3 linked regions of the Homo sapiens genome follow. The protein of the gene in region 3 interacts with the protein of the main gene of each other region in a biochemical or structural test. Each region holds a gene or a part of one and is shown on either strand. Other genes may lie near its edges.

Region 1 (6,097 bases), on a different chromosome or scaffold from region 3:
TCCATTAAGGCATGGGAGGCGGCAGTTGCAGTGAGCCAAGATCACGCCATTGCATTCCACCCTGGGTGACAGAGAGGGAAGGGAAGGGAAAGGAAAAGGGAGAGGGAAAGGGAAAGGGAAAGGGAAGGGGAAGGAGATGGAGGGGAAGGGGAAGGGGAAGGGGAAGGAGATGGAGGGGAAGGGGAAGGAGATGGAGGGGAAGGGGAAGGGGAAGGGGAAGGGGAAAAGAAAGAAAACAGAACTCATACTGTCAAGAAACCTTATAAAAGTAAGAAATGTAATCAAGCTCTCATCCTTAGATGTTTAGTTCCAAGAACCAACTCTCATACAGCCTTTCTCAGTTGAGTTTCTATCACTTACAACTGAAAGAATTCCAGCAATGGGCTATAACACAACTATCAAAAGAATAAGGTGGATTTGTATGTACAGACATATTTTTCTGCAATATATTAAGGGAAAATAGCAATAGCAATTCTCAGAGCATTGATATATTACACCTGTTTTGTTTTTAAAATATATATTTTTTTCTATTAATAGTGAGAACTAAAAAAAGAGGAGAATGTTCACCACATATAAGACTTTAAAACATATACATATATATATTTAATCACAGAATAAAACAAAATGTTATAAAATTAAATGCTATGCATAAATTTTGCATCAAAGGCCAATTATCAAAATTTATTTCAACTTAATTTCCATAGAAGCCTGTGGAATGTACTTCCTAGAAAGGAATAAGAATAAAAACAGCAAACTGAATTACAAAGAAACATGAACGACACGGTTCTTATGAGCTCATCAGTGTTCTATTGAACTTTCTTCAATCTCCCTCTGAAAAGCAAAATCCAGAAAATGATTATTTCACCATCCTTCTGTAACTCCAGAAAAGTGAAGTGTATATACACTTGAGATCAAATGATCTCTGGGCAGTTTTTAAAAATATATTCGTGTTAATATCTATGGTGCAATAATACAACAAGAAACTGAAGAAGGGAAATACATCTAAAGAAGCTAAAATAAAATACTCAAATCAGCAAAATAGAATTTTGCTACCTGCCATAAATTCAAGGTCACACTAAGAGTGGACCATAAGGACAGGACACACAATTAGTCAACACAGAAGGCTATCCTTTCTCCACATCAGTGTTTTCATCTCAAATATCAAACCCATACCCCTCTAGGGCACTCCCTAAATTCCCTATGCTATACCATTTGAGATGTTTAACTCTCCATGATTGAGGCAAAATGTACTGCATATAACTTAAATAAGAACAAAGTAGGCCTACTCATTATAATGAATCATGTGAATAAAAATTAATATAAGCTTAGATTTAAGCTAAAATAGACATGAAATCTGAAAAACTCCATGTTATAAAAAGAAACAAGGAAGGTATAAATGTTACTAACTTATCTACAAAATCTAAACCAAGATAAAGTAGAAATTCAATTGAAAAATCAATGTGATTTGGGAGGCTGAGGTGGGTGGATCACTTGAGGTCAGGAGTTTGAGAACAGCCTGGGCAACATGGTGAAACCCCATATCTACTAAAAATACAAAAAAAAGGCCAGGCACGTGGCTCATGCCTGTAATCCCAGCACTTTGGGAGGCCAAGGTGGGTGGATCACTTGAGGTCAGGAGTTTGAGACCAGCCTGGCCAACATGGTTAAACCCTGTCTCTACTAAAAATACAAAAATTAGCCAGGCATGGTGGCTGTCATACCAGCTACTTGGGAGGCTGAGGCATGAGAATCACTTGAACCCAGGAGACTGAGGTTGCAATGAGCCGAGATCATGCCACTGCACTCCAGCCTGGGTGACAAAGTGAAGCTCCATCTCAAAAACAAAACAAAATAAAATAAAAATAAAATAAATACAAAAAAAAAATTAGCTGGGCATGGTGGCGGGCACCTATAATCCCAGCTACTCAGGCGACTGAGGCAGGAGAATTGCTTGAATTCAGGAGGTGGAGGTTACAGTAAGCCGAGATAGTGCCACTGCACTCCAGCCTGGGTGACAGAGCAAGACTCCATCTCAAAAAAAAAAAAAAAGTGATTTTTTTTTAAGTTGAATAAATGGTTTTTATCTTAAGGCATCACATCTAGAGGCAAAAATTAAAAAAAAGAATAAAAGGTTTTAATATCAACATTTGGCTGAAACTGATGCAGAAATGAACATTACTTTTTAAACCTCCTTGCAACAAGATTTTTTAAAAGTAAAAATACCTTTCAATGATCAAATAATAAATCTAACATAAATCCTACATTTAGTAGCATCCAAAAAATAAGAATTATTTTTTACTCAAATTTAAAAAACAAACATAACCACACTTAATGGGAAAAAATGTAATACTCTTTCTAAAGCATGAAAACAGATACCAAAATACCATGTATTCTTAAATGACCACATATGCTACACTGACACTATGGCCCACAGTGAGTTTGAAAAGATATAACAAGATTCAATTTTGTTATTTCATCACTATAATTTTAATCATTAGGCATATTAATGTCACATACAGTTTTTAAAATATAAATATTTTTAAAGCTGTTTTACAATATGATAACAAGAACACCCAGCAGATACAGGTTGTACAGTTAATCATTTTGACTGTGTCAGTAATATAATCAGAATACTGTAACGGTAAGAGAAAAATACTTTTTTTTTTTTTTGAGACTGGGTCTCGCTCTGTCGCCCAAGCTGGAATGCAGTGGCGCAATCACACCTCACTGCAGCCTCAACCTCCTGGGCTCAAGGATCCTCTAGCCTCAGCCTCCTGAGTAGCTGGAACTACATGCATGCACCACCACACTCAGCTAATTTTTTTTAAATTTATTTTTAGTAGAGACAGGGTCTCACTATGTTGCCTAGGCTAGTCTTGAACTCCTGGGCTCAAGTGATCCTCCTGCCTCAGCCTCCCAAAGTGCTGCGATTACAAGCGTGAGCCACCGCCTGGCCCGAAAAATACCTTGTTTTTAATCATTCCCATTCAGCAATAGTGAAAATGCTCTATGTACAACATTGGCTCTGAATAACACATTTCATTTCTGCTTCAAACCTCCTATGCTGTCTATCGCTGTTTTGACGACTGCATAGCTCAACAGAAAAATGCGTCCCATTGACGTCTCAATAATAAGTCTGATTAGGCAGATAAATTCCCAATCATAAAAGCTTTTATTTTAAGACAAGTATTATGCAAATACAGGATGGAAATCAGACTCACTGTAATTGGGATGAAAAGGCAACTCTAAGAAGAATGCTGTACATATGACACCTATTGCATTTTTATGCACTAGTCTTGCATTCCCTTCCTTACTTCCTCGTCTTTGAAGTGCTAAAGGTAATTACACTAAAAAGTTACTACCAGGCTTAATATGAGAGAACCATGTGTATAAGAAAGCAAGACTTTCAGATAAGCAATCTCCAAATATTTTCTATTTTATATGCATTTATGATTTTTCTTATAAAGAGGGAGTGTTTTATGTGCAACACCTGCAAATGGAAATAAATCTACCTTTCACTCAAGCCCAAATAATCAAATATAAAATACAGACAATACAGCAAACTACAATGGCAGCAGTGATTCTTAGGGCAGCATGTGCAAAATCCAGTATTTTGCTATCTACTTACATCACTGTAGTCAGAAAAGAAATGTGCCAAAACTACCTTTCCCATTCCACTTGAACTGGTTCCCCACAATCCCAACAAACATCTCCTGTGACATTAAGTTGTCATCAGCTTGCGTGATCCCCAGTTCACTCAACCTTTTCTTCTTTATCTGGCCTTTCTGTGTGGAGGCAGCAATTAGTTCATTTACAATTTCACAATTTCCCTCGACTTGCTCAGAAGGGTCAGTTCTTGCACAAAGCTCCATTTTACCAGTTGCACACTCAATCAGCTCTTCTAGATCCACTCTTTCAGCCACATCTGGCTCTCCACTTGTCTGAATTTTAAGCGCTTTATTTTCTGGAGAAACAAACAAATAATAACAAAGTTAAATATACAAGCTAACCCAACAAAAACATATATTTCTACACAGTCTTCTCAACAAGCAGCTGCCTTGCTTTCTATACCAAGGTTCCCTGACCCTCACACAGGATCACCAATTTTGAACTCTTCCTTTACCCTTTTCATCCCAGAATCACTTTTACTCAACAGACATTTCCTGGATAGTTACTATCTGCTAAGCACTGCGTTAGGAGATAGGATGCACAGATTGATAAGATAGTGCCACTTTTCTAAATGAAGTCCCAATCTAGCAGCTAATTCTAGATAGGCCCCATGATCCCCACCCCCTGGTATTACTTTCATGCCTATTAAATGGCAGAAGAATTTTGCACTGTAATTTTACAATGTAATTAAGATTGCTAATCAGTTTTCTCCAGCTGGTTGCTAAAGAGGAAGTCAGAGAAATTCAGAGCATGAGAGATTTGCCTTGAGGGATGTTCTCTGTTGCTGAGATGGGGGGGCCATGAGGCAAGAACCTGAGAGCAGCCTCTAGGAGCTGAGTGCCAGCCCCAGCAAACAGCCAGCAGCCAGCAAGAAAATGGAGACTTCAGACCCATGAGCTAAAGGAATGAATTCTGCCCATGAATGATATGAATGCGTTTGGAGACAGAGTCTGCCCCCAGAGCTTTCAGATGAGTCCTGCCCAGCTGACACCTTTATTTTACTTTTGTGAGACCTGTGAAGAAATAAAGAACTTGCAGAGATGTAACTGGAGCAGATCCTGAAGGATGACAAGGACTACCCTTTAAACTCTTTCAACCTGAAAAAGCTGATTAAATAAATAAACTGCTTTAAACTTTCCTCACCTACATCAAAGCTTAATCCTTCTCTATGACTGAGACTTAATAGTGGTCTACATCATAGCTTGAAGTTCACAGATTTCCACTGAGTTAGCTCCCCTTCGCTGCCAAGAAAGGCAGGTGACAGGAAGGCATTTACTTCTACCAATAAAAACAGAGGTAAACTCCACTATCCCCTCCAGGAAATGCAGCCTTCAGCCTGGCACATTCATTTCACTGTCTCCAGCCTTAACAAACGCCAGTAGGAGCCACCATTGCTGTCACACACCCACTGTTGCTGTCACACACCCACCATAGCATCACACACCCACCATTGCTATCACACACCCATCGTTGCTATCACACATCCACCCTCATTGAAAGCTAACCATGATAAGAAGGGAACTGCACAGAAACCACAACATCAAGATTTTGAATGACAGTTGAACTAGTTGACCTTGAAAGTTTCTTTCACAGTCTGTAATGTTATGACTTAATGTTACCAAGCTTCTCTCTCTCCATGCCCAAGCATATCCCAACAACCTTTTTTAAGGAAGAGAGGAAGACTCAGATCCTTAATCAGCATTTAATGCTGAAATAAATTATGTCTGGTTTTTATATTAAAAATTACTAAATATACCTTCAGTTCCATCTTCAGCATTTTCTTGCAGGTCAGAGAAGATTGTAGGTTTCACCAAGACAACACCATAACCTTCATTATTATGTATTATATTATTCACCATGGATATCTTGGGAATGTCATAATGTTCATCTAAGAAGTCCTGTGACATTGAAAACAAATGTTTTAGGAACTGTCATATTCAACATTTCCTGCCTTAAAAATCTTCTTTATTCACACTATTCTAAAAATAAAAGGAAAAAGCTATGTTTAGTCCCATGTTGTAGCACAGTCTGCACCCTTAGTGACACAGCTTTCCTCTGTCATTTCTGCAGATCTATAGGTAACAGCATTCTCACAAGAGATTCCAATCACTGATATTATCAAAATGTGTACACTGTTTATGCTTTTCAAAACCAGAAAATAGAACCCAACAATTTAATAAAGCATAATTTGTAGGTAAAACCATTCTATCCATTGAAAAGTGGGTGTTTTGGCTGATGCTCACCTTAATGAGGATCCCTTCCTTGCAGTGATGGATCCCATTGTCACTCAGGGTGCACTGACTCCCAGGGTAGATTTCTATACCAGCACCCTGTGAGTCACAGTTTGAGATAATGACAATCAGTTTTTAAAAGGCAAGACTATAAGAGTTTATTACAATTACTTCTTAGCCTTTAACACAGTACAAAT
Region 2 (7,808 bases), on a different chromosome or scaffold from region 3:
TATTATATTGCATGTGCCTACTTTACTATACACAAAGCAGATATAGACGAAAAAGGCAATCATTAAAAAGGCACGAAAACGGCCGGGCACGGTGGCTCACGCCTGTAATCCCAGCACTTTGGGAAGCCGAGGCAGGCAGATCACCTGAGGTCAGGAGTTCATGACCAGCCTGACCAACATGGAGAAACCCCATCTCTACTAAAAATACAAAATTAGCCGGGCATGGAGGCGCATGCCTGTAATCCCAGCTACTTGGGAGGCTGAGGCAGGAAAATGGCTTGAACCCGGAAGGCAGAGGCTGTGGTGAGCCGAGATCGCACCATTACACTCCAGCCTGGGCAACAAGAGCTAAACTCCGTCTAGTCATCATAGTTGTAAGAATATCTAAAAGTGAATGTACAAACTATCTGCAAAATGCCTCGGAAATGTATAATGAATTGTGAGACAAGAAATAACAATGGCGGCCGGGCGCGGTGGCTCATGCCAAGAATCCCAGCACTTTGGGAGGCCTAGGCAGGCGGACGCACCTGTGGTCAGGAGTTCGAGACCAGCCTGGCCAACATGGAGAAACCCCGTCTCTACTAAAAATATAAAAATCAGCCGGATGTGGTGGCAGACACCTGTAATCCCAGCTACTCTCCGCAGGCTGAGGCAGGAGAATCACTTGAACCTGGGAGGCAGAGGTTGCAGTGAGCCGAGATTGCGCCACTGCACTCCAGCCTGGGTGACAGAGCGAGACTCTGTCTCAGAAAAACAAACAAACAAAAGAAATAACAATGCTACTTTCACTATAATTCCATCTTCAAAGAGGCAGTATTCTTCAGAAAACGTTCACCCAAATCTAAACTTACAGAATTGCTTAAAGTCAACGCAAGGAAATGAGGCACAGGAGGCTGGGGTGAGGAGAGAACATAAATCACCCAGCCAGGTGCTACTACCACTGATTATTATTAACATAAATTTGTGTGTGTGTTTGTGTGTTTGCCTAACTGTTTAGTTTGACTGTCTTACTCAACAACTTACCTAGATAACAGTCAAGGCTTGCTTCATGTCCTGCTGTGTAAGTGTAAGGAAAGTATCCAAGTCTTGACTTTCTTTTTTTTTTTAAGACAGAGTTTATAGTGGCACAATATGAGCTCACTGCAACCTCCACCTCCCGGGGTCAAGTGATTCTCCTGCCTCAGCCTCCTGAGTAGCTGGGATTATAGATGCACACCACTACATCCACGAATTTTTGGATTTTTAGCAGAGATGGGGTTTTACCCTGTTGGCCAGGCTGGTCTCAAACTCTTGACCTCAAATGACCCGCCCCCTGTCGGCCTCCCCCAAGATTTTACTTTCTTATCAAGTAAGTAAGGCACTAAACCTCTACTAGGTTTTCCCTATCAGTGAATGAGTAAGAATCTTTTAGACTCAAAGAAAAAAATGTTTTTATTTTGAGACAAAGGTCTCACTCTGTCAGCCACACTGGACACAGTGGAACAATCACAGCTCACTGCAGCCTCAGCCTCCTGGGCTCGGGCAATCCTTCTGCCTCAGCCTCCCAAGTAGCTGGGACCACAGGTGTACACCACCACCCTGGCTAATTTTTTAAATTATTTGTACAGATGAGGTCTCACTATGTTGCGTAGGCTGGTCTCAAACTCTTGGGCTTAAGCGAGCCTCCCAACTCTGTCTCCCTATGTGCTGGGATTATAGGTGTGAGCCACCATACCCAGCCTCAAAAATGTTAAGGCTCTCCAAGAACACTTTCACAAAAGCATATAAAGATGGAGAAAATGTAAATGTCTATCTTTGCAAAGTTCATCCTATAATTTCCTAACACACAGATACGGAAAAACCAGGTAGATTTATACAGAATTACAGGTGGTGTTGCTTTCTACAGGAAATAACATCAGTGATACAGATTTCAAAACCCCACCTATTAGACATAGGGCAAAATAGGCTGGGCGCAGTGACTGACGCCTGTAATCCCAGCACTTTGGGAGGCCAAGGCAGGTGGATCACCTGAGGTCAGGAGTTTGAGACCAGCCTGGCTGGTCTCAACACGTCTCTACTAAAAATACAAAAAAATTAGCTTGGTGTGGTGGTGGGCACCTGCAATCCCAGCTACTCAGGAGCCTGAGGCAAGAGAATCACTTGAACCAAGAGGCAGAGGTTGCAGTGAGCTGAGATCGCACCACTGTACTCCAGCCTGGGCAACAAGAGCAAAACTCCATCTCAAAAAAAAAAGAAATAGGGCAAAACAAAAACTTTCCCTTCACATTATGTTGCAGTTTTGCAAGTGAACAGACTTTAAAACGCTAAGAATTAATGCAGTATTATTTATAAATCAAAGATTATGATGCATATAATAAACATTCTGATAATGCATGCACAAAACGAGTGGTTATTAATGCATATCTGAGCATTCAAAAATGACATATTAAAAGATGAGTTACATAATCACTGTTTGTATAATTATCGTATTCAAACTCCCCTGAAATTAAAGACCTTAAGGACACCTCTTTGACTTCATTATTTAAAACAACTCACAAAATTCAACCATATTTTATATTGTACTCCAAATAAAATTAACCCAATTTAGTCAAAGCAATACTATAGAAAATTAAATCAATAACTACCCTTAGCATGCATATAGTGTTTATCCTGGTTTCTCTTAAGGCAATGGCCAAAAAAAATAAAATCCTAGAAAAGAAATTCCTCCTACATTTTCTTTATATTCCATAAATTACTTCCTAGAAAATCAAGAGCAAATACACATTACTGAAGTCTATTTCTGATTATACTTCCTTATGTTATTCTACAGACAGAGATGGATTTCTAATTTATAGAATACTTTCCAGAGTATTTACCCAGAATGTGCTTACTACATAACAATCACTGTTAGTCACTCTGGAATTAGGTTTGTGAGTATATAGTCCTGTTACTCTCCAATTCTCTCATACTGGCAAAATATACAAGTTCAAAAAATCACATTCTTGGAAAGCAGAGTTCTTGGAAAACTGGCAACACTAGCAGACTTCACTTTTAAAAGTGAGAAAAAGGATACAGAAATGGCCAAAAAGCACAGGAAAAGATGCTCAACATCACTAATCATTAGGGCAATGCAAATAAAAATCACACTGAAATACCACTTCATACCTATTATAATGACTACTATCAAAAAATTAAAAAGCAGAAAATGAGTGATGGTGAGGATATAGAAAACTGGAACCCTCATGCATTGCTAATGGGAATGAAAAATGGTCCAGTTGCTGTGGCAATATGTATGGCAATTCCTGAAAAATTCAACATATGATCCAGCAATTACACGTCTGGGTACATACCCAAAAGAAATGAAAGCCAGAACTTAAACAGGTATCTGTACATCATGGTCACAGCAGCATTATTCACAATAGCCTGAAGGTGGAAGCAACCCAAGTGTCCACCAATGAATTAATGGATTAAAAAGTATATGGTATGTATATACACTGAAATTATTCAGCCTTAAAAAAGAATGAAATTCTGACACCTGCTACAACAGAGATGAACACTGAAGACACTTGACTAAGTGAAATAAGCCAGTCACAAAAAGACAAATATTGCATGGCATCACTTATAGGAGGTACCTAGAGTAGTCAAATTCATAGAAACAAAAAACAGAATGGCGGTTGCCAAGGGCTGGTGGGGGAAACAGGGAGTCAGTGTTTAACAGGTACAGAGCTTCAGTTGGGGAAGATGAAAAGGTTCTGGAGATGGATGGTAGGGACAGTTGCATGACAATGTCAAGGCACTTAATGCACATTTAAACATGGTTAAGATGGTAAATTTCATGTTATGTATATTTTACCATAATTTTTTAAAATGAGAAAAAAGACATGAAAGCATTAAAGAAAAAATACATTAAAGCATGTGTCCAAATTCTTCTCATGCATGCTTCTTTCACTACCCACAAAACCAATACCCTGACTATGAGTGGTCAGTGAAGTCCTAATTTAATTGTTTACCATAAGATCCAAGAAATTAGTGTAAGTTTTTAAATTCCTTCTAATTCTAAAAAAAAAAATTTAACTGGCTTCCTCAGAATGAAGTCCTTTACAGATACAGAAGTTAACACCCATTACATATCTACTTCAGATTAAATAGATTACTAAAAACCAGTGTCTCCCAACTTTGTATTTCAAGCATAGTTCAATCTACAGTGTTTCCTACATTTTCTTTCCAAAGCCTCATAATGACTATTTTCATTTTTACCAGCAAAATCTCTAGTCAAAATTTTCTCCCCCAAAGCTCACAGGAGCTCATCTTTACTGACTGGTAGATATATCATCTTTACAGTAATCAGTATTCAGTTTCCAAAAATTTTGTATAAACATTGGAATCTTATTTATGAATCTCTCTCTCTTTTTTAAAAAAAGTATTCATATGGAAAAAATAGAAGCTTGAAATATCCTAAGCTAAATTTTGAGGATCTTTTCCGGTTACATTCCAGTTTTTCTTATAATACCTTCTGATTTCACAAACTGTTACAGAAATAAGTCTGCAATAATGAACTAGCAAACCAGGTTGCCTGGTTTCCTCCAAGCCACACTAAAGCTCATTGTGTTGTTCATATCCCCTTTCTCCCATTCTTCAGTATTCAGCACATAAACATCCACCTCAAAGGTAAATTCTGATAGTTTCCACACTATAAAAGCTATGTTCTGATATTTTTCAAACAACACCTGTTCATAAACATGAAGCAAACATGATGAAAATTAAAAGGGACAAAAAGTAACCACATACCCAAACAAAAGTTGAAATGCCTAATTTAGAAAAAATTCTTCATATTAAAAACGTGTTGGGCCGGGCATGGTGGCTCACGCCTAAATCCTGGCATGGGAACACCATGGCAATTCGAGACCAGCCTGTGCAACATGGCAAAACTCCATCTCTACAAAAAAATGGAAAAATTAGCTGGGCGTGATGGCATGCTTCTGTAGTCCCAGCTACTCGGGAAGTTGATCCCGGCTACTCGGGAAAGGGAGGATCACTTGAGCCTAGGAAATAGAGGCCACAGTGAGCCCCAACCTGCACTTTCTTTTTTTTTTTTCCCCCGAGACAGAGTCTTGCTCTGTCACCCAGGCTAGAATGCAATGGCACGATCTGGGCTCACTTCAACCTCTGCCTCCCGGTTCAAGCAATTCTCCTGCCTCGGCTTCCCGAGTAGCTGGGATTACAGGTGCCACCACCGCGCCTAATTTTTGTATTTTTAGAAGAGACAGGGTTTCACCATGTTGGCCAGGCTGGTCTCAAACTCCTGACCTCGTGATCTGCCTGCCTCGGGCTCCCAAAGTGCTGGGATTACAGGCGTGAGCCACCACGCCCGGCCTCAACCTGCACTTTCACTCTGTCCCCACTGAACTCTAGCCAGAGTGACAGCATGAGATTGTCTCAAAAGAAAATTTAAAAAACCAAAAAACTTGTTTTTAACAAATTTCAGGCCAGGCACGGTGGCTCACACCTGTAATCCCAGCACTTTGGGAGGTCAAGGTGGGCAGATCACTTGGGGTCAGGAGTTCAAGACCAGCCTGACCAACATGGTGAAACCCTGTCTCTATTAAAAATACAAAAATTAGCTGGGCATGGTGGCGGGCACCTGTGCTCCCAGCTACTCGGGAAGCTGAGGCAGGAAAATCACTTGAACCCAGGAGGTGGAGGTTGCTGTGAACCAGCCTGAGCAACAGAGGGAGACTCTATCTCAAAAGATAAAAATTAAAATTAAAAAATTAACAAATTTCAAAGAAAAGATCATACTAAACAAGTATGATCATCATACTTGTACATAGAAAGGTATATCTTTTCTACTTGTACTATGTGAAAACAAGAGTGCATGTAAACAACTATAAATGGACCATTTTTTTCTTGATTTTTAAAAACGAATTCTTCCAAATACCATTTTCTATATGTAAATTAATGAATGGTACCATCTCCTCTACTAGGGTCTACTTCCTAAGACCATAATCTGTAGTTGTCATTGTATATAATGTATCCCTAAACGTCAACAGAAGAAAAAATGAAAAACACAAACCCAGACATCTTAAAGTTTCTCTAGTACTTAGTTTACCTACTCATCAATGTGAGATATTCTCCTGATAATGTTTCTTTTAACTTGCCCAAAGACAGACTAAATTGAGCCTTTAAAAAGGAGAGTGGGTATATTTGGTCACACATTAGTAACTTCAATGTATGTGAAGTATCCCATCCCTTCAATTTGCAACACATATAAAACTCTACAAAAAGGAAATTATATATAGATGTAGAAAGATCAATTGAAAAAGAATGCATCACCTGGTCATGAGCCTTACCTTTTAGCAGCGGCAGAGGTGTTAACTCAATAGGCTTGCCTTGAGACCTAAACTGTGAGGAACTTTGCGACCTCTTCTGTCTGGCTTTTCTGACGGACTTCCGAGAAAATCCGTCTACTTTATCCACTGATGGAGGAGTAGTTGGTGCTGAGGACATATCCCTACTGAAGAGAAAGAAGTATCATAAACCCATACATTCCCAAGGTGGAAGCATACATGTGAGTTATACAAATTCTAAAATTCCCATATACAATATTCATGAAAATGGGAATATGTGCTAAAGAAAATAAAATCAGTTAAGAAAAGTCTTATCTTGGCCAGGTGCAATGGCTCACGCCTGTAATCCCAGCACTTTGGGAGGCTGAGATGGGTGGATCACTTGAGGTCAGGAGTTCAAGACCAACCTGGACAACATGGTGAAATTCAGTCTCTACAAAATTACAAAAATTAGCCGGGCATGATGGCAGGTGCTTGTAATCTCAGCTACCCGGGAGGCTGAGGTGAAAGAATCGCTTGAACCTGGGAGGTGGAGGTTGCAGTGGGCCAGGATCCCGCCATTGCACTCCATCCAGCCTGAGTGACAGAGTGAGATTCCGTCCTTTAAAAAAAAAAAAAAAAAGGGCTGGGCCCGGTGGCTCACACCTGTAATCCCAGCACTTTGGGAGGCCGAGGTGGGTGGATCACTTGAGGTCAGGAGTTCGAGACTAGCCTGGCCAACATGGTGAAACCCTGTGTCTACTAAAAATACAAAAATTAGCCAGGCGCAGTGGCATGCACCTGTAATCTCAGCTACTCAAGAGGCTGAGAAGGGAGAACCGCTTGAACCTGGGAGGCGGAGGTTGCGGTGAGCCAAGATGGCACCACTGCACTCCAGCCTGGGCAACAGAGCAAGAGTCCATCTCAAAAAAAAAAAAAAAAAAAGCCAGGCACAGTGGCACACACCCGTAATCCCAAGGCGGGCAGATAACTTCAGGTTGGGAGTTCGAGACCAGCCTGACCAACATGGAGAAACCCCATCTCTAATAAAAAAAAAAAAATACAAAAATTAGCCAGGCATGGTGGCGCATGCCTGTAATCCCAGCTACTCGGGAGGCTGAGGCAGGAGAATCACTTGAACCCGGGAGGCGGAGTTGTGGTGAGCCAAGATCATGCCATTGCACTCCAGCCTGGGCAGCAAGAGGAAAACTCCTTCTCAAAAAAAAAAAAAAGAAACAAACAAAGAAAAGAAAAGTCATATGTTAACAGGAAAACATGAAAATTTAGTGAAAATAATTTAAGTATCACGGAAACAATATGAGAACTCTAATGTATTGTGCCACTCCATTATAAGCATTAAAGATACTCATCTAGGCTTAAAGAAATCTATGCTGCCTGCCCATTTTCTAACTGCAAAGCTCTTCACATCTTCAAGTAATTTTTGGAGCTATTCTGTAACTGGAAAACTTCCATTGATACATTTTCCCAAGATACTTAATATTA
Region 3 (7,808 bases):
ACTCAGAGAAGTTTTAATGCTTGGGGCCAGTAATCTCTGTTACCTTGGCCTGACTATTCTTACCTGGTCTACTGCAGAGCCAATGGAACGAGTTTTCTTTACAGGTCCAGGGGGACCATCAACAAACTGTCGGCTAGTAGAGCGCTAGAAAGGAGACAAAGACCCGTAACTTTAATGCCAAGCAGATCTGAAGCACAGAAGATAAAATTATTCCATCAAACAACTTGGATACAGGTCCTGGGGATTAGGGCTACAGTAAATAACAAACAATGTGTTCTCTCTCTCTCTCTCTTTGCCTATTTCCACATGAAGAATAAGCTGTTTCAAAAGAATATGTTGTACAAAAATGCTCTCAGTGCCCTAGAAAAAATGAGCAAGCTATGGAGAAATTTAGATGACACCACCAGAAAAAGTACAGCTGTAATCCTAACTAAGGACATGAAGTCTTGGAAACACATTAAGTACCCTAAACAAGCATACACAGATAGATCTCTATATATCCCATTATATGAAGCTTATATTAGAGCACAAAAGTTCTGTGTAAAAATTCATATGACAATTCAAAACAAACTTAAGTTTATCCTTTTCCACTGTATGAATGAATTGAAATGCAGCCTAAACAGTGAAATGGACAGGATTCTGTCCTAAGTTACTACTTCAAAGAGTACCAGTACTGGTTGGGAGCAGTGGCTCACGCCTGTAATCCCAGCACTTTGGGAGGCCGAGGCAGGTGGATCACCTGAGGTCAGGAGTTCAAGACCAGCCTGGCCAACATGGTGAAACCCCGTTTCTACTAAAAATACAAAAATTAGCCAGGCATGGTGGCAGGCACCTGTATCCCAGCTGCTTGGGAGGCCGACGCAGGAGAATTGCTTGAACCCGGGAGGCGGACGTTGCGTTCAGCCGAGATCGCGCCATTGCACTCCAGCCTGGGAAATGAGCAAAACTCCGTCTCAAAAAAAAGAAAAAAAAAAAAAAAAAAGAATATCAATACTGTCCCCACAGCATGAATTCATCTGTAGTATGTGCTTAACAATGGCTAGAGCAACATGACAGGAATGCAGTATCATGGCAAAATTTCCAAAAATAACTCCATTATTACTTTGTTTTAAAAAAAGACTAAACAAATCATACATACCCTCTTTTCTCTCTTCTTCAGTTTGAAAGTCTTCACCAAAGAAGAGTCCCAATCCTGTTGACAATTACACTGTATTAATTTCTTTTTTTGGTTAGGCCATCCCTAAACCCTGTGCAAATAAATTTACAGAGAACTTTAAAGGCTTCTTCAGTCAGGCTACCTAACGTACAATTCGGGGAGGGTTAGAGAAGGGAAGGTCTCAAGTGTTGTAGCTATAGAGCTATAGTAAGTTAATGTGCTTTCTTTGAAAAATTGAAGCTATTATAATAAAATCAGGAATCAATACCACAGAGGCAAGAAGAGGTTAAAGAATCAAATTCTGCCATATTTCCAGTGGCTGATCCTTTATTTCTGATTATTTTTGTAATTAGTTTTAGAACTTACAGAATGTTAGGCACTATACTGATTGTATTAGATGTGATTCTTGCCCCCAAGGGATTGCCACTGTCTAATCAAATGCTCTGCATAATATTGCCACTTCACAAGTTCCACAGTTGCCAGGCGATGGCTCATGCCTGTAATCCCAGCACTTTGAGAGGCCAAGGTGGGCGGATCATGAGGTCAGGATATCGAGACCATCCTGGCTAACACGGTGAAACCCCGTCTCTACTAAAAAAATACAAAAAAATTAGCCAGGCGTGGTGGCGGGCGCCTGCAGTCCCAGCTACTCTGGAGGCTGAGGCAGGAGAATGGCATAAACCCGGGAGGCGGAGCTTGCAGTGAGCTGAGATTGCGCCACTGCATTCTAGCCTGGGTGACAGAGTGAGACTCTGTCTCAAAAAAAAAAAAAAAAAAAAAGTTCTACAGTTTAGGAACTTAGGCCCTAAAACGTGTCCACCACTGAAGAACTATTTGTCTTTTATTGTGGTCTCATTTCAATTCACCTATTTTAACTATTTGCATTCATTTTAGTAGTTACCTGTGATTTCCTTACTCCTGATCATCCCTGAAAACAGTATCTAGAAACAGTGGTATACAGCAAATAATAGCTTAGCTAAATAAATTTAACTTCCCCAAGTCATGGTCCAGTAATTTAGTTACTGGTTGTTTGATTCAGCTTCAGTTACAAGAAATATCGTATCATAGGTCTAGCTCAAAAATCAACTGATAATATGATCTAGTTTTATTATATATTCCAGACCTCCACTATATCATTCCCTATTTGAGAAAGGTGATGCCTAATATTTTTATCTATAAAATGGCCGTATTTTCCCTGGTCAAACACTGAATCTGAACAGAAAACTCCTAGCCATGTAACAAATAGTTGTCACCTGTTTTGCTATACCAGAAAACCAGTCACCAAAAACTTCCTGATTTGTTTTGTTTGCTAGTTTTCAGCTAGTAACAGAAAAGATGCACAAATCAATGAACTATATCAAAGACTGTATCAGGAGATGACCTTTTATGCAGAAGCATCACTGTAAGTTAAAAGAAGTGTGCCGCCCCATAAAAGCAGGGCAACAAATAGTTTAACATGTTAACCATTGTTGATGAAAGCATTATATAGTGCCTAGAAACTCTAATCACACTTTTCTGGCTGAAATCCCAGGACCTTGGTTTCCTTCTAATTGTGAAGTATGACTATGCTTTCCCCAAGAACCAAACTAATTCAGAAATAAGGCACAAGTCTATTTAAGAGCAGCAAATAAACCCTGACGACATACAGTCTTGCTAATATTTTTATTATTAGCTGGGGCTTTAATAAGTCAAAATATAATCAGTTAGTACATGTGGCACACAGAGATCTATTAAATGAACTCAACTTATGCCAAATTCTGAATTATATATTCTCACTTCAGAAACTAATATATAAGCCAGCCTCTTATAGCTCATGTGGATTTATATTTTAAATTGCTAGCTCAGAATCTATAACACATCAACTAATAAAATAGTAATATAGGATGTTCAGAAGAGAAGACAGGAGAGATATTCCTGGGGAAGCAGAGGTAAGAAAAGTAGGTAATTCTCAGAGATCAAATGTTTATTACCAGTGATTCATCAGTCTTGTCAAAGCTGATATCTGATAAAATGGAACCAGATTCATCAATGGTTGATAGTCTAGATCAGTGAAACAATACAACGTTAGACATGGTAGACTGTGGAATGTAAAATTCACCAACATTCAGAACAAGTCCTACTGGTCAGGTAACATCAGTTAATTTCATAGCAAAATCTTCACTATAGAGACAATTACAATCTCAAACCCTGTGGTAGGCTACTTTGTATGGTTTCCACGGAGGAGTGTGTGTGCATGAGTACAGGTGCAACACAGTTGCTTTTTCAGCAAAGACCTTATAAGGGCAGTTGAAAGTTAGTCAGGGTTATGGGTGCTATTCTCTACCGAGTTTGTATTACAGGCTACTCCAAATTCACAAAATCAAGGGAATGAAGTTTAATTTGATCCCAACTGTGCTGGTTTCTACAAACAAGAGTATTACCCAACACTGACTTTTTAAGAAATTAAGCCTGTACATCTTCTTAGTTATAAAGATTCCCCATAAAACAACCAGGCAACAAAATAAATAGCTGACCTTTCCCTACATATTGTACTGGGGATGTTAAATTCAAAGCCTGGTTGAGACTATTTTAAACAGTGGTGCAGTGGAACCAAAATTATTGTCTGGTCTTGGCTCACAGAGGCCTTTCTAAACCAGAAGAGCTGTAAGAGCTCTCTGGAGAGTAAACACTGAAAGTATTGCTGAACTGCCACTTTCACCTTTGGGTTTCTTAGCAATGCACAGGATTAGTTATTGATGTGCAATTTAGCACCAACATCAAAATTGTATCCATGGTGAAACAACATCCTTAGGAAAGATTTAAAAATAAAATAAAATAAAATATACAGGGACATCCCTGTGCCTTTATTCCCCACCTACTCTCCCCACAAAATCTTTTTCTGCTTTTTTCAGCACACATTCTAGAAGAAGTATATTTAAGAATTCAGATAACAAGAATATCTGACAGCCTGTGTTGCTTGTGATAGGATAACAACAGATGCAGTTCCTCCACCTTTTGTTCCCAGCATTGCTGCTGGATGGTTGGCCTCTGTTGAGAAAAGCCAGAGCTGATTTTTGCTCCTCGCTTAGTTGAATGCTGCCAGATGTGTCACACATGAGCATCTCTCGAATCAGCTGAATCTGTCGTTCCTACAGACCAAAGCAAAGTAAAACATCATAACTAGCCAGGGGAGAAAGCTTCACCTCAAGTTTATGGGACAGGCAGACCAGAAGACATTAAAATGCAGCATTATGCAAATGGACCTTCAGGAAGGCTGCTACACCAATAGCATATTAATTCACATCAAACCCAGATTGTGTCTCTGATTTCTGACTGGTAAAATGAACTACATCTAGAACAGCGAAGTTTCTGCTACAAGACTTTTGGATTAACCTGCTAATCCAAGAGGAGAATAATGCAAAATGAGAGTCCCAAAATAGATTTCACATAGCAAAAACACTTTAGTGTCATTTTATCAGGACAAATATTGGCTTCTACGGATCAAAGCAGCCACCCACCTCTCAAAGTAGTGGAGCAAAATGCATTAAAATGGATACAAAGCTATAATGCACTGGAACCAGACAATTTGAGTTTACTGAGGCATCTAACACTGTATACCAAGATGGATTAGTCCCTCCCAGTAAAGGCTTTCCTTTGCATTATGACCCATCCTGGCACATCAAAATGATAGTGTTCTGTGTCAGTCACATTGCTCAACTGGTTGAATACATCTAGCCTTTTACCCTGAATTAGAGAGGGGTGATGAAAAGAAGAGTCACAGTTGTCTTGCCTGTATGTATGACAAAGTACCAGCTACTCATGTAAGGATGGATATTCCGGGTAGCACTTAAAATAAACAATGAAGGATGGCCAATAACTTGTGACAGATCAAGTACGTTAGGATCTCCCTCCCTCCCTTTTCCTCTAATTCTTTAAGTTCTCATTTGAAATCTGTCTGTTAAGTAAGTTTCAAGTCTAAGTGACAAAAACATTTAAATTTCAAATTATGAAGAACAAGATTCCTAGTCTGCAATTTCAGCTCTAATCATGGGCAAGCTGTTAAAGAACAGGTCACTTTCAGTTCTTTAATGTGGAAGAAGAAACTAGGTATATTTGGCAAGTGGAAACTGTCAGACAATGCCTTCCCCCTCCTGCATCATCACTGTTCTAGCACGGAAAACAATACACACCAGCTTTTCGCAGTCAGCCTCAGCTCTCTGTCTCCGTTTGATCTCTACATCCACCTGATTACGTGCATGCTTCAGCTTAACATCCAGAGCACTTCGCTCAGTCTCTGCTTTCATCAAAAGATCCTTGTATTTCCCCAGCTCATGGTCAGTCCTCTGCCACTTTTTACGGAAATCCTCAAAGTCCTTCGCCAACTGGATAAATTCTGAGGAAAGGGGGAATCTTTAATAATTCAAGCACCAAACAGAGTATAACTGCTCTAATAAATGAGTCCTACGGTTAGCTTTATTTGAAATTCATAATTAAGGAACCAGCTGAACTATGGGCAAATCCAGCTGAAAATAACTAGGAGCAGATCCTGGATATGTTTGTCACTCTGATGAGAACTTTGTGGGTAGCAATTCCTATTCAATAGGCCACTTACTTTTGGCTTAGCCAGTGGCATCTGCTATGGAATATGTAACTCATTAGTCACCTGGCTCCAGATGTAACACTAACACTGAAAGCTCCTGAACAGAAGGCAATCAAAGGGGGATACCTTTGGGGCAGCTGTCATGCACCAGGACAGTTACAGCTATAAAACAAAAACAGTTTCCTTTACAGTCACGCATTGCTGCACCAGAGAGATGTTAAACAGCAAATTCAAATGTAACTGCTGTAATATGCTCCAGTAGATGTAGATTAATATTACAGATGTCTAGACCTACAATTCCATTTGGCTATATAATTATACAAATATTGATTTGAAAGTAAAAAGCCAATTTGCTTTTGCTGTTTAACACTGCCCTGAAGGGTATGTAAACATTCCAGTTGAAAAAAAAAAAAACAGGAAGAGAAGATCAAACTAGCTTTTGGAACATCCCTGATAGCAGAATGTGAAGTCTCTTCAAATGTCTGCAAAGAGAACATCACTTCCAAGGCAGCATCTCAAAGGAAGAAGATAACCCTGTTGGCATTCATTCTTATCTCCTGCTATTGGCAAAGCTGTTCTGCAATGTATTTGCAAAAGTGCCTTACAATTTTCTAGTTAACCTCCGTCTATCTCTAAGGATCACTCTCCACCAACATCAAGGAAGAAGGTCTCAAGGTGTACATCTGCTGCTGGTCAAACTAACCCAGTTAAAACTGAAACTAGGCCAAATTCACACACAGCTAGCAGATTCTTAGGTAGTAAGGGCACTTTTCCCCTATGAATTTAACCTAAAAGCATAGAAACAATACATAGTCCTTTTTAAACAATTTTAATCATTTGACCAAATATCAAACTTACAAATCAGGATACCAATTTGTTCCAGAAAAACCAAGTAATAAGGAAACTTTAGTTTTTACAAACCACAAATTTCAGCAAAATAGGTTATTATGACCTAGTTATCTTAAACAATGCGGATATCAACAATTAAAAAAATATTACAATTCAAATAGTTTTAAGAAATAATATGCTGGGTTAGTCTGGAACATACTACTTTTTTGTGGGTTTTTTTTTTTAGCTTAAAGAAAAAAACATATATGTTTGCAAACTAAATACCGTATGCATACACACTCAAAATATTTACCGAACTGAAAAACAATTTTGAGAATAAAAAGATTTTCATCTGACCTAATTTTGCTGGTTTGTTTGTTCTTTAGGATACTCCTTTTATTAAATTACTGCTTCAGCTTAGTTTAAGTCAGACCCAAAGCAGAACATTTACATACCTGATTAATATATTACTTTTTGTGTGTGCAGGTGAGAAATGTGAAAAAAAAAAAAAAAAAAAAAAAAAGATATTACTTTTTTTTTTTTTGAGACAGAGTTTCACTCTTGTTGCCCAGGCAGAAGTGCAATGGCGCAATCTTGGCTCACTGCAATCTCCGCCTCCCAGGTTCAAGCAATTCTCCTGCCTCAGCCTCCTGAGTAGCTGGGATTACAGGTGTGTGTCACCATGCCCAGTTAATTTTTGTATTTGTAGTAGAGACGGGGTTTCACCATGTTGGCCAGGCTGGTCTCAAACTCCTAACCTCAGGTGATTCACCTGCCTTGGCCTCCAAAAGTGCTAGGATTACAGGTGTTAGCCACTGTGCCCAGCCTACTTTTCACTTTTGAGACAGTCTTCCTCTGTCACCCAGACTGGAGTGCAGTAGCACAATCTTGGCTCACCGCAACCTCCGCCTCCCAGGTTCAAGCAACTCTCCTGCCTCAGCTTCCTGAGTAACTGGGACTACAGGCGTGTGCCATCACACCTGGCTAATTTTTGTATTTTAACTAGAGATGGGGTTTCACCACGTTGGCTAGGCTGGTCTCAAACTCCTGACCTCAAGTGATTGACCTGCCTCAGCCTCCCAAAGTGCTAGGATTATAGGCATAAGCCACCATGCCCGGCCGAAAGATACTATTTTTATGTACAATTCTGCTATGAGCAAAGTTTGCTGGGATTGGGTCAGAAGGCATTTTGGGCCATAGATCAGAAACAATTTTGATGTTGAAGACCAATAATCATGGCACTGT

The links.
Region 1: the proteins of RACGAP1 (region 3) and SHCBP1 form a complex in vitro, tested with the Homo sapiens proteins (one study listed by BioGRID).
Region 2: the proteins of RACGAP1 (region 3) and PPP2R5E interact in far-western blotting, tested with the Homo sapiens proteins (one study listed by IntAct).

Annotation. Positions count from the first base shown.
Region 1 is NC_000016.10:46,578,091-46,584,187, forward strand, and holds the end of SHCBP1 (SHC SH2 domain-binding protein 1), read right to left. Parts: intron 6,000-6,097; coding exon 5,913-5,999; exon of another isoform or gene 5,912-5,912; intron 5,568-5,911; coding exon 5,426-5,567; intron 3,965-5,425; coding exon 3,639-3,964; 3' UTR 501-3,638; downstream 1-500. UniProt on the Homo sapiens protein: May play a role in signaling pathways governing cellular proliferation, cell growth and differentiation. May be a component of a novel signaling pathway downstream of Shc. Acts as a positive regulator of FGF signaling in neural progenitor cells.
Region 2 is NC_000014.9:63,533,200-63,541,007, forward strand, and holds part of PPP2R5E (serine/threonine-protein phosphatase 2A 56 kDa regulatory subunit epsilon isoform), read right to left. Parts: intron 6,495-7,808; exon of another isoform or gene 6,494-6,494; 5' UTR 6,487-6,493; coding exon 6,330-6,486; intron 1-6,329. UniProt on the Homo sapiens protein: The B regulatory subunit might modulate substrate selectivity and catalytic activity, and might also direct the localization of the catalytic enzyme to a particular subcellular compartment.
Region 3 is NC_000012.12:50,001,109-50,008,916, forward strand, and holds part of RACGAP1 (rac GTPase-activating protein 1), read right to left. Parts: intron 5,529-7,808; coding exon 5,326-5,528; intron 4,285-5,325; coding exon 4,148-4,284; intron 3,197-4,147; coding exon 3,127-3,196; intron 1,193-3,126; coding exon 1,139-1,192; intron 145-1,138; coding exon 64-144; intron 1-63.